3 separate regions of the Homo sapiens genome follow, and regions 1 and 3 are each linked to region 2. Evidence: fine-mapped expression QTL. A gene starts in region 2. Each other region holds a variant in brackets. All regions are shown on one strand. Distances are between the middles of the regions.

Region 1 (4,240 bases), 77 kb after region 2:
CAATCTGTCTCTCTGTCTCTCTCTCTCTGTCACGTTTTGAAATTCTGGCTTCCCTCCTATACCCAAGGGAGAGCTCACACTTCTCCCTTACCTGAGCGAAATGCCATCTTTCCCTTCCAGCACCCCATTCAATCCTCCACCAGGGTCCCCATGTCCTGGTAGCTGCTCCCTGGATGTTGGGACTTCACTCAGTTCCATTTTTTTTTTTTTTTAGGAGACAGGGTCTCACTCTGTTGCCCAGGCTGGAGTGCAGTGGCCTGATCATAACTCACTGCAGCCTTAATCTCCCGGGCTCGAGAAATCCTCGCACCTAAGACTCCTGAGTAGTTGGGATTACAGGCACATGTCACCATGCCCAGCTAATTTTTAAATTTTTTTGGTAGAGATGGAGTCTCACTATGTTGCCCAGGCTGGTCTTTAACTCCTGGCCTCAAGTGATCCTCCTGCCTCAGCCTCCTAAAGTGCTGGGATTGCAGGCATGAGCTGTTGACCCTCAGTTCCAGATCTTTGCTGGCAGCAAGTCCGGAAACTTCCATCCGGATCTGGTTTGTGGCCTTATAACTTAATGTGAGGAGAGGTCTCTGGGGTAGATGGGCTCCACCCAAGCAGACTTTTGTGCCAGCTACTGTGGCTGTGCCACCCACCTTCATTGCAGCACAGTCTGGCGCCTTCTACAGATGCCAAAAAAACCAGTTACACTCTTTTCCAGCTTTTCTCCCAGCCAGGACATGGATGCATGTGTCAATCCTGGCTAACAGGGTCAGAGCGAGTCAACAACAGAGAAGTCTTCCGAAAATGTTGTATTACTTTTTTTTTTTTTTTTTTTTTGAGACAAAGTCTCACTCTGTTGCCCAGGCTGGAGTGCAGTGTCGCGATCTCGGCTCACTGCAACCTCCATCTCCCAGGTTCAAGCGATTCTTCTGCCTCAGCCTCCTGTGTAGCTCGGACTACAGGCGCGCACCACCACACCCGGCTAATTTTTTGTATTTTTAGTAGAGAAGGGGTTTCACCGTGTTGACCAGGCTGTTCTCGAATGCCTGACCTCGTGATCTGCCCGCCTCAGCCTCCCAAAGTGCTGGGATTACAGGCGTGAGCCACTGCGTCCGGCCAAAATGTTGTATTACTTCTTTGTGGTAGGGAGAGTAATGCCCCCTTTCCTTCAGAGATGTCCTCATTCCAAACCCTGGAACCTATACATATGTTACCTTCGCATGGCAAAGGGGACATTGAAGATGCCATTAAGGATCTGTTTTTGTTTTAGAGACAGGGTCTCACTCTGTCACCCAGGCTGGAGTGCAGTGGTGTGATCATGGCTCACTGTAGCCTGGAACTCCTGGGCTCAAGCGATCCTCCTGCCTCAGCTTCCTGAGTAGCTGGGACCACAGATGCATGCCACCACACCCAGCTATTTTTGTTGTTGTTAAGACACGGTCTTGCTCTGTTGCCCAGACCAGTCTCAAACTCCTTGGCTCAAGCAATCTTCCTGCCTCAGCCTCCCGAAGTGTTGGGATTACAGGTATGAGCCACCATGCCTGGCCAGATTCTTGAGATGGGGAGATTATTCTGAATTACTTGGGGCGGGCCCTATTTAATCAAATGTCTTTGTATAACTTGAGGCAGGAATCAGAGTAGATGATGTGATGATGGAATGAGAGATTTGAAAATGCTACACTGCTGGCTTTAAAATTGGAGGAAGGGGCCATAAGCCAAGGAAGGCAGGTAGTCTCTAGAAACTGGAAAAGGCAAAGAAATGGATTCTCTCCTAGACCCCCCAGAAGGACCACAGTCCTGCTGACATCTTTATTTTAGCCTAGTAAGACCCATTTTGGACTTCTGACCTCCAGAGCTGTGAGACAATAAATTTGTTGTTGTTTTAAGACACAAAGTTTTGGTAATTTGCTACAGTGGCAATAGAAAGCAAATACACTTCCTGATGCCAACTTCTTCAGCCAAATGTTGCACGGCTAAATGCTAGACTTGGAACTGTAATCACCATCTTAGGACTGCAAAGACGTGTGCCTCAGAAAGAACCAAGGCCATACACTGGGGAGGGCTGAGCCAAAGGAGGGACAGTGACTGGTTACAGCTCATACTTGAGCCCAGGGGTCAACCGTAGAAGCCCTTACATCTGGATTTAATTACATTTTTTATTTTGTAATTTTTAGTTTTATTTGTGCTGAGACAGAGTCTCTGGAGTGTAGTGGTGCGACTACAGCCTCAACTTCCCAGGCTCAGGCGAACCTCCCACCTCAGCCTCCCGAGTACCTGGATTACAGGTGTACACCACCACACGCAACTAGTGTTTTGTTTTCGTAGGGATGGAATCTCACACAAAAAACTGGGCAAGTATGTTCCCCAGGCTGGTTTTGAACTCCTGGGCTCAAGCAGTCCTCCCACCTTGGTCTCACAGTGTTGGGATTACAGGCATGAGCCACTGTGCCCAGCCTGGACTTAATGAAAAA[C/A]AAACAAACAAACATTTTTTTTGAGTCAGTCTTGCTTTCTCACCCAGGCTGGAGTGCAGTGGTGTAATCTCAGCTCACTACAACCTCTGCCTCCTGGGTTCAATTAATTCTTATGCCTCAGCCTCCCAAGAAGCTGGGATTACAGGCATGCATCATCACACCTGGCTAATTTTTGTATTTTTAGTAGAGAAAGGTTTTTACCATATCAGCCAGGCTGGTCTTGAACTCCTGACCTCAAGCAGTCCACCCACCTCAGCCTCCCAAAGTGCTGGGATTACAGATGTGAGCCACTGTGCCCAGTCAGTGAAATTTAAGATCATGAATGGTGGCATACTGTCACTTCTGCCAAAACTACACCTTACATGATAACCCTTTCTTGCTCCCCACCAGCTTTTGCTCTCAAGTCTCGTTTGGTCATGCTAAGCCACAGTTTGGGGACTCCTAGGAGCAGCCATCACAGGTAACCAGTTCTGCTGGCTCAGGATGGCCCCTGCTGCCCTGACTCAGAGACACTTCCTGCAAGGCAGACATCTCATGCAGAGCAGAGGCCACTGCAGTCAGAAGGAAGGGCCTGGTAGCCTCAGAGGCACAGCCAAGGGGCTGCAACGATGGAAAGGAGATATTCCACAAGTCCAAGAGTGTGACATGGAAGCACACTCTGGGATGTGGTGGACTCAAGTGATCCATGCAGATGTGGATGCTGTCTCTCTTTCTCTGTTCATAGAGTGTGGCATGGGTCCTCTCTGGGTGAAAATAGGTGCCCAGAATTAATCACACACTTCCATTCAAAATAAACTGTGCCAACTTGCTGAACCACAAAATGATTTCCTCGCCATGGCCCCTAAATAACTCCGTGATAAGAACTGTATGCTATTGATGGCTCTGAAGTCCAAATTTATTGGCAAAAGCAAAGAACATGCCTGAACTAGTCATTTCTGCAGGCGTTTCTCCTTAAGATGAGTTTGAAGCCAATTGGTTATGTGAAGAATAGCAATCAGTTCTTTCTCACACTGGAGGAGGAGGAAGCACAAAAGAAAGTTCAAGGGTCAAGCCTCCCAAAAGGCTCTGTTATAATCCTATGTGCTCTTTCATTGTATCTAGTGATGAATTTGGGTAACTGACACTTTACTCATTGGCCATCTATCCTTGAACTTGATAAGCATTTTCATTTATGTAAGTTTACTTGTAATTCTTCCAAAACTTATCTTCACATTTCCCAACAAACTAATTTCAGACATTTTGTTTTTATGATTCTATTGTGACAGGAACCTCCATTTCAATATACTTGTTGCAGGTATAGATTTTGTGCATTGCTTTGTGGTGTTGATTTGTCCATCTTTTGTATTCTGCCTAGCTTATTGTAATCTTGATTTTTAAAGTTTTCAATTGGGTTTTTAAAGTATGTTAATGTTAATAAATGCATTTTTAGGTTTCCTTTCCCAATCATTACAGCACTCAGGTCTATTTCATATCAGATTGATTGATTTATTAAGACAAGGTCAAGCTCTGTCGCCCAGGCTGGAGTGCAGTGGCATAATCAGGGCTCACTGCAGCTTCAACTTCCTTAGCTCATGATCCTCCTACTTCAGCCTCTTGTGTAGCTAAGACTACAGGAGTGTGTCACCACATCCAGCTACATTTTTTGCTTTAATACAGATGAGGTTTTGCTACGTTGCTCAGGCTGGTCTTGAACTCCTGAGCTCAAGTGACCCTCCCGCCTTGGCCTCCCAAAGTGCTGGGATTATAGGTATGAGCCTGGCCTCATACTTTATTTGTAG
Region 2 (4,240 bases):
CTCCCTCCCCTAATCTTGGGACTGTCCAGGATTTGCCTCAGATGGGATTTTCCTGGAGCCCAGCCCCCCAGCCTCAGCAAATGAAGCAATCTGCACAAGTCTTGAGCCAGTCCTGTAGGCTTTGCTGCACCCAGAGGCCTGGAATACAGAAGCTGAGGCAGAGAGCTCCACGGTGGGTGAGGGGTGGCTGAGCTGAGGGGTCCCAAGCCTGGTGGGTCTCCAGAGTCCTGCAGCAAATCCCCTTCATCCTGGGCTGAGCAGAGCTCAAGCCTGGTTTGGCCCTCCGTGGGCCCAGCCCTGGCCACCTGAGGAATATTCATCGCAGCTCTCCATCCCACCACACTCATCGGCAGGGTCTAGCAAACCACCCCACAGCCACAGGCCTGAGGATCAGCCAGGGAAGCTCAATGCATGGGATGTGGTTGTTGATGGGTCGCCGGATATTCCCAGGGTCTGCCCTGGCTTCATCCACAGATCACTTACTCATTATAAAAAGGGGTAAAAGTGCTTTTAAAAGAATGAAAAAACATGGAGTAAGGGTCGTCGTTCACATCTCAGCTGCCTTTTGTGGTCCCTGATCCACTCGCCAGGACAGACAGAACCAGAGAGATGTCCTGCGCAACTGGCCTAGGCTCCCCGAAAACCCGAGGCCAGAAATACCCAGGAAGTCACAGATTCAAGCATCATGCACAGAAAACAGCAACTCGATGCGACACGTGGTCCCGCTCTGACTCCAGGGCAGGAAACCATCCGCAGGACATGATGGGATGGGGGAAGTGAAATGGAACCGAGGAGGTGACATGGAACCAAGTGACTGTGCCACTCAGCCTCGCCCAGGAGTCAGCAAGGACACAGGCGAATATATGGGAAAGTGGAAGGAGGGCAGACAGAAATGGGGGAAGCGGGGAGGGAAGGTAGCAGGGAGAGAGAAGACAGGAGAGGAAGGAGCAAGAGCAGGGAAAGCCAGATAGTCTGGACGGGGGTAGAGGGGGATTGGGAAAAGGAAGGAGCCCAGGAGGGTGAGAGAAAGGAAATGGGGAAGGAGTGATGGGAGGGTGAGTCAGGCCCCCACCCCAACCCCCTGGGTCAGGACCGAAGCCAGTACACCCACTCTTGCCTCTTCCACGAGAGAGGTCTCCGGGGTGGGCGCAGACACCTAACTCAAACAGAACCCACCCCCAGGTGACTGGGGAGAGGCGAGATATTCCAAGGGTGGGGGCAGCAGAGACAATGCCCATTCTAGGCACCCCTTTGGTCCCCGCACCCTCCATCCCTTCCCTGCTCCAGCCCCTGGGGCCACAGCCTGCCCAGCGTCCCCCCACCACGGACACCCTCACATCCTCACACCCTCAGCCCCCACTTCCTCCCCTCCTCTTCCCTTCAGGAGCCTCCCCCTCCCTTCTCTTCCCCACTCAGGAGCCTCCCCCTCCCCCTTTTCGCCCCCCTCAGGAGCCTTCCCCTCCCCCCTTTCTCCCCCATCAGGAGCCTCCCCCTCCCTCATCTCTCCCCCATCAGGAGCCGCCCCTTCCTGTTCTCCCACCCACAGGGTGCCCTAAGCGCCTCCCCTCCACGAGCCTACACGGGGTGGGGGTTGCACTAGTTCCCTACCTGCCTGCAGGGCCCCTCACCGATCTGGATCTCAGCCACCTCCGGGGGGACCCGGCCCCTGCCCCGCACTCCACGCGAAGGGATGCCAGACCCTCGGCCTCCTGGACGCACAGCGGGGGCTCGCACCCCAACCCCGGGAACACCCTGGCCCCTTTCCCTAACGCTGCCCACTGAGGCGTCCTCACCGTCTACCCTGTTGGGGTCGCTCTCTGACCCCCGCGCTGCATCCCCGGGACCGACCCACCTGCTGCGCAGCTACCCCAGGCCGGTCCCAGCCGCCCGGAGCCCCAGTGCGCGATGGCGGCCGGCAAACTGCGCCTGCGCACTGGGCCTCACCGCGGACTACGACTCCCACAATGCCGCGAGGCTGTGCCGCGCACCGGGGCGAGCAAGGGAGCCGTGACAGGTGACAGTGCGCATGGCCAATCAGACGCGAGTGTGGCCTCCCGGCGTCCCGCCCACTCCGGCGCCTGCGTCATTTTGGGCACCATGGCAACGAAGTAAACAAGCGGGTAAATAATAGACCCCTGACAGCCAGAGACCCGGAGAAACAAAGACGGTGAGAAACGGAGAAACAAAGACAAAAAGACGCGCAGACCGGGAGGGAGAGAAGCATGAAGGCCCACAGACGCTCGGGGGCAGACCAAGACGCCCTGGGGTCCCCGAAACAGAGATGTACAGAGTCGGACACGGAAAGGGAGAGACCAGCTCACGGTTAAGAAAGGAGGGAGACCAGCCCAGGATCAAGAAAGGGAAAGACCAGCATGGGCTCAAGAAAAGAAAGAGACCAGCTCAGGCTCAGGAAAAGAGAGAGACCCAGAGAAAAGGAGCACTCGAGGCTGAGACAGATCTGGACAGAGATACAGAGACAGGGACCAGCAGACCCAGTACTGGGGAGACAAGAGGTGGAGACCCAGAGACACTGATGCGCTAAAATGGGTTCTACAGTTTCAAGGAGTGGATAGAACTCAAAGATTACCCACCCCAGGGATTCAGGAGCTGCTGAAATGAGGGAAATGTGAGTGGCAGCTGGGGTGAGGGCTTTGGCAAAGCCCCATATAAATGTAGCCCCCCTGGAAGGCAGGATAGGGCCAGGAGCTGCTTCCCATTTCAGTTTTCCAGATAGAGGCGCTTATGAGGATGCCATTTTGGTCGTTTTTGTGTGAACTGATTTTTAAAATGTATATCTGAACAGTTTATATATTTTAAATTTACATACACCACACATTTTGGTATTCAGTTTTATGAATTTTAACTCATATCCACCAACAAACTCGGGACAAAGAATAGCTCCACTGCCCAAAAATCCTCCTGCTGCCTCTTGGTAGTCACTCCCTCCCCACCCATAACCCCAGGAACAGCTAATCTAAGTAGTCCACTGCTACAATTTTGCCTTCACAGTGTCATATAAGTGGGATCATACAGTATGTGGCCTCTTCAGATTGGCTTTTTCACTGAACATAATTCCTTTGAGAGGCATTGAAGTAGTATGTATCAACAGTTCATTCCATTTTATTGAGAAGTAGTATTCTATGGTATATAGCAGTTTAAACCTTCTCCCACTGAGAGATATTAGGATCGTTTTAAGTATTTTGCTATTAAAAATAAAGCTGCTATGAACATTCGTGTACAGATTTTTCTGTGAACGTAAGTTTTCACTTTTCTGGGATAAAAGCCCAAGAGTGCAGTTTCTAGGTCACACAATGAACACGTGCTTATTAGTGTTGTAAGAAGCTGCCACACTCTCATGCAGAGTAGCTGGACCATTTTACACTCCCACCACCAATGAATGTGTGAATCCACTTCACATTTTTATCAGCATTTGTGTTTTGCTATTTTTTATTTTGGCCATTCTGATAGGTATGTACTGATATATCATTGTGGTTTCAATTTGCATTTCCCTTAATTGCTAACAAGTTTGAGCACACTTTAATGATTTTTTTGGCATTTGTATACCCTCTTCATTAAAGTATCTGTTCGTATCTTTTGCCCATTTTCTAATTTTTAAAAAAATTGCTCAGTTTTGAAAGCTATGTTTTTTTTTTTTTTGAGACAAGGTCTCACTCTGTCACTGAGGCTAGAGTGCAGTGGTGCCATCATGAATCACTGCAGCCTTGACCTTCCAGGCTCAAGTGATCCTCACCTCAGCCTCCCGAGTAGCTGGAACTACAGGTGTGCGCTACCATACCCAGCTAATTTTTTTTTTTAAGAGATGGGGTCTCACTATAATGCTAAGGCTGGTCTCAGACCCCCGGGCTCAAGCAATCCTCCCACCATGGCCTCCCAAAGTGCTGGGATTACAGGCATGAGCCACCATGCCCAGTCTTTCCAGTTTATTTTAATGGATATAACTCAGGAACTGCCAAATGGAAGAGATGCACAGCTAAGGTCTGGTCAGGGGCACTGAAGGTGCAGTGCATCCATGTACCGTCTGGGTGAGCCATCCTCCCAGCACTCAGATGTGTTCACCAACCCAGCTCTCTCAATCGTGGGGCAGAGAGAGGGTCCATACCTTCTTTAAGGTGACTATCCCCATCCTGAAGATATCTATGGGTCCCACTGGAGTCACCTCATTAGCATAAACTCAGGTGTGGTCGAAACGGGCTCCTTATGAATTGCAAACCCTATTCCT
Region 3 (4,240 bases), 97 kb after region 2:
GCTAAGGTGGGAGGATCACTTGAACTAAGGAGTTCAAGACCACCTGACAAACACAGCAAAACGTCATCTCTACTAAAAATAAAAATAATAAGCCAGATGCAGTGCTGCATCCCTGTAGTCCCAGCTACTTGGGAGGCTGAGGCAGGAGGATTGCTTGAGCTTGGGAGTTTGAGGCTGCATTGAGCTGTGATTGTACCACTGCACTTCAGCCTGGGCAACACAGCAAGAAACGGTCTCAAAAAAATATATCTATATCTATATCTATATATCTATATCACATATGAGATAAAAGGGTCAGATGTGGTGGCTCACACCTGTAATCCCAACACTTTGGGATGCCAAAGCAGGAGGATTGCTTGAGGCCAGATGTTTGAGATCAGCTTGGGAAACATGGTGAATACAAGTCTCTGCAAAAAAATAACAAAAATTAGCTGGGTGTGGAGGCAGGAGGATCACTTCAGCCTGGGAGGTTGAGATTGCAGTGCACCACTGCACTCCAGCCTTTGTTTCAAAAATATGTGTGTGTGTGGGTGTGTGTGTGTGTATGATAAGGGAGAACAATTATTTCTGAGTTTTTGGCATTAGCCAAGGATGTGGGGATGTCTGGTAAAGACCTAGACTTTGCTGAGGGGAGGAAATAAGGGGTTTGTGTTTTCTGTGTTTTTTGTGTTTTGTTTTTTACCTTTTTTTTTTTTTTTTTTTTTTTTTGAGGCAGGCTCTCACTTTGTCACCCAGGCTAAAGTGCAGTGGCCCCATCTCACATCACTGCAACCTCCACCTCCCAGGTTCAGGCAATTCTCCTGCCTCAGCCTTCTGTGTAGCTGGGACTACAGGCACCTGCCACCACACCTAGCTGATATTTTGGACTTTTTAGTAGAGACAGGGTTTCACCATGTTGGCCAGGCTGGTCTCAAATCCCTGACCTGAAGTGATCCTCCCACCTGGGCCTCCCAAAGTGCTGGGATTACAGGTGTGAGCCACCACACCTGGTCTGTTTTTTACTTTTTGTGTTGAAATAATTTTTAATCTTTTTCTTCGGCCGGGCGCGGTGGCTGATGTCTATAATGCCAGCACTTTGGGAGGCCAAGGCGGGTGGATCACCTGAGAAGTTCGAGACCATCCTGGCTAACACGGAAACCCCATCTCTACTAAAAATACAAAAAATAGCCGGGCACGGTGGCGGGCGCCAGTAGTCCCAGCTACTCAGGAGGCTGAGGCAGGAGAATGGCATGAAGCCGGGAGGCGGAGCTTGCAGTGAGCTGAAATAGCACCTCTGCACTCCAGCCTGGGCGACAGAGTGAGACTCCATGTCAAAAAATAATAATAATAATAAATAAATAAATAAATAAAAATACAAAAATTAACTGGGCATGCTGGTGTGCACCTGTAGTCCCAGCTACTCGGGAGGCTGAGGCAGGTGAATCGATTGAACCCAGGAGGTGGAGGTTACAGTGAGCCGAGATGGTGCCACTGCACTCCAGCCTGGCGACAGAGTGAGACTCTGTCTCAAAAAAAAAAAAATACACATATATGTGTGTGTATATATGTGTGTGTATATATATACACACTAATAGTATGGATAACTCAATAGCTTTCACATTGATTGAAGTTTTTGAATTGTCCCATGTCTTAACTGATTCTTGTAATGACAGATGAATGAGAAGGCACCATAGAGACACTCAAGGGTTTGCAAATCCAGTCGAATACACCTATTTAGACCTAAGAAGGAGATCCACACAGCACATAAAAACATCCGTGTGGAAGTCATAGGTGTTTAGAATGGAATGCTTTACTGTGAGTGTGAGACGGGGAACTGTCTTCTAAAGTGGTCAGTTTCTCCCAACAGTGGC[A/T]TAGCTGTGCATCTCATTAATGGACAGAACTGGTATTGAGTTTAGACTTGGGCCATTTTGACAACTCTGTGTGCTTCTCGAGCTTCCCATGATAGCAAGAATGGCAGTCAAGTCAGCAGTCCCCAACCTTTTTGGCACTAGGGACCGGTTTTGTGGAAGACAGTTTTTCCGTGGACCTTGGGGTGGGGAGGGATAGTTTTGAGATGAAACTGTTCCACCCCAGATCATGAGGCATTAGATTCTCATAAGGAACATGCAGCCTAGATCCCTCATGCACAGTTTACAATAGGGTTCATGCTCCTGTGAGAGTCCAGTGCCACTGCGGATCTGACAGGAGGTGGAGCTCAGATGGTAATGCTCATTTGCCTGCCGCTCACCTCCTGCCGTGCAGCCTGGTACCAGTTTATGGCCTGGCAGCTGGGGACCCCTGGTTTAAGTAGAAGGGAAACAAATGCTAGGACAAATGGCATTCATCCTCAGGAAAGCACTGAATGAGGAATGATGCTGTGACAGTAAGCAATGTAGGGAAAATAGGTGGCACTCGAATCTTCAGCTCTCACTAATGTCCCTTCAAGAACCATTGCCATATATGTGGCTCTTGGGTGGAATACTTGAGATGTAAACTATTACAGATTTAGTCATTAGGAAAGGAATGCAGGGAAGAGACTATTATGAAGGTCATGATTTAGGAAACCCTGCAGGGCATTTTACATTTTTTACTTGTCAAGAAGTTAAGTAGAGGCCAGGCACGGCGGCTCATGCCTGTAATTGCAGCACTTTGAGAGGCCAAGGTGGGCAGATCATTTGAGCTCAGGGGTTTGAGACCAACCTGGGCAACATGACGAAACCCTATTGCTACATAAAATAGAAAAAATTAGCCACACATGGTGGCGTGTGTCTATAGTTCCAGCTACTTGGGAGGCTGAGGTGGGAGGTTGGCTTGAGCCTGGAAGGTGGAGGTTGCAGTGAGCTGGGATCCTGCCACTGCAGAAAAAAAAACAAAGTTAAGTAGGAAATGAGTCCTACAAATAAGAACTTAGCAGCTTTTTTGAAACATAGACCAAACATGAGTCTGAAAAATAAGTTTGATGAGGTGAGTGTTTTATTGGGAGGAAGAAAGCCAAATTCTTCTTGAGATTCCATCCTTTGTATAGCTTGAGAGGGTCACATAGGCTATAGAGTGATCAACAGCATACCATTCTTTTATCCAAGAATAAGATGGAGTAAATGTGTTTAGTTTGAAAAAATTCACTTTCAGCCTGTCTTTGCCCTCTTTAATGTTTTTGCCCTCTTTAATGTCTTTGCCATCTTTCACGGGACATTAACCAGCAAACACCCCAAATGAAGTAAGTCCTTTTCATGAACTTTTCACCATCTGAGAACTCACACAGGGAAGAAACCTCAGAAATATGATCACGTGAGGAAAGACTTCTGGCCTAACTCAGTCTTATCTTGAGAGGATTCATACTGGAAAAGTTCTTACATTGAGTATTACATCTAAGAGCTTCTGAAACCATGAGAATATAATTGCTGTGGGAAAGGTTTTATGCATAGCTCCCTTATTCAGCATCACAGAAGTTGTACTAGAGATTACCTGAGAACATAGGGCTGGGAAGCCTTCGGGTGTCCCAGAACTCACTGGCAAGGATCCCTCTCTGAACACAGCATTTTGGGAACCCCTTCAGTAGGAGTCCTCATTGTTTTCAGCATCAGAGGACTCATATGGGCAAACATCCTGTGAATGAAATCTGTGCAGACAAATGACCAGCCTTAACTCTCACCTTATGTGACAGAACGAAAAAAATATACACTGAAAAGAACCCCGTTGAATAATAAAAATGAAATGTCTCATCCTATTTTTATATCATGTCGTAGAGAAGGCAAACCCTACATAAAACACTGATAAGTATATAAATGTAGTCTTGTCTCTTCTAATTTGCTTATTATCTGACCTGAACATCTAGAACAAATATTTAAAATATGGATGAGAGCAGGTGTTCTTTTACTTCTGTATGTCCCCATTTGCTAACACAATGACTGAATTACTAGGAACTCAGTACATAACGTTGAGTGAATAGATGTCTGAAGAAGTTGCAGGAGACAAGAATATGTCTTCAAAGAGAAGACTGAATACAAGGCCAGGCTTTGAAACAAAAGGGTAGGTAAGAGAGGGTAAAGGAAAATCTTGAGAGAGTGCTACAAAGAACTCTGCGGGGCCCACATTCTTGGCAACTAGGTTGAGTCTGGAATGTTGGGTGGCTGTCAAACATGTTTTGGCTGGAATTCAGTGAAGCAGAGTCATTTCATGCTTTGTGATCTTTTATTGAAGAACACTTTACATTCTCTGCCACCTCCCACATATCTGATCTCTAAGACCTGTGTAAATCGTG

Which allele goes with the higher level. Positions count from the first base shown, and alleles are read on the strand shown. Sizes are in standard deviations (SD) of each study's normalised expression. Not every link is listed here.
In carriers of allele A in region 1, the expression in CD4 T cells of the gene that starts at base 1,910 in region 2 tends to be higher than with C alone (moderate effect, 0.65 SD a copy in CEDAR).

The links. PIP is the estimated chance that this variant, and not a neighbour inherited with it, causes the effect.
Region 1: its variant is the best candidate, but not a certain one, in a credible set for the expression of ZSCAN18 in CD4 T cells (CEDAR, PIP 0.84).
Region 3: its variant is the best candidate, but not a certain one, in a credible set for the expression of ZSCAN18 in whole blood (INTERVAL, PIP 0.67).

The regions. Positions count from the first base shown.
Region 1 is chr19:58,173,685-58,177,924 of GRCh38, forward strand. It overlaps LOC124904784 (a long non-coding RNA gene), which reads left to right. Exons shown (of 2, transcript XR_007067360.1): 2 at 2,853-3,905. Among named protein-coding and RNA genes, the nearest start is that of ZNF274, 7.3 kb to the right of the region's middle. The variant C/A (reference allele first, on the strand shown) is at 2,463.
Region 2 is chr19:58,096,322-58,100,561 of GRCh38, forward strand. It overlaps ZSCAN18 (zinc finger and SCAN domain containing 18), which reads right to left and starts at 1,910. Exons shown (of 7, transcript NM_001145543.2): 1 at 1,853-1,910.
Region 3 is chr19:58,193,689-58,197,928 of GRCh38, forward strand. The region is part of intron 4 of ZNF274 (zinc finger protein 274); the gene reads left to right. Among named protein-coding and RNA genes, the nearest start is that of ZNF274, 13 kb to the left of the region's middle. The variant A/T (reference allele first, on the strand shown) is at 1,851.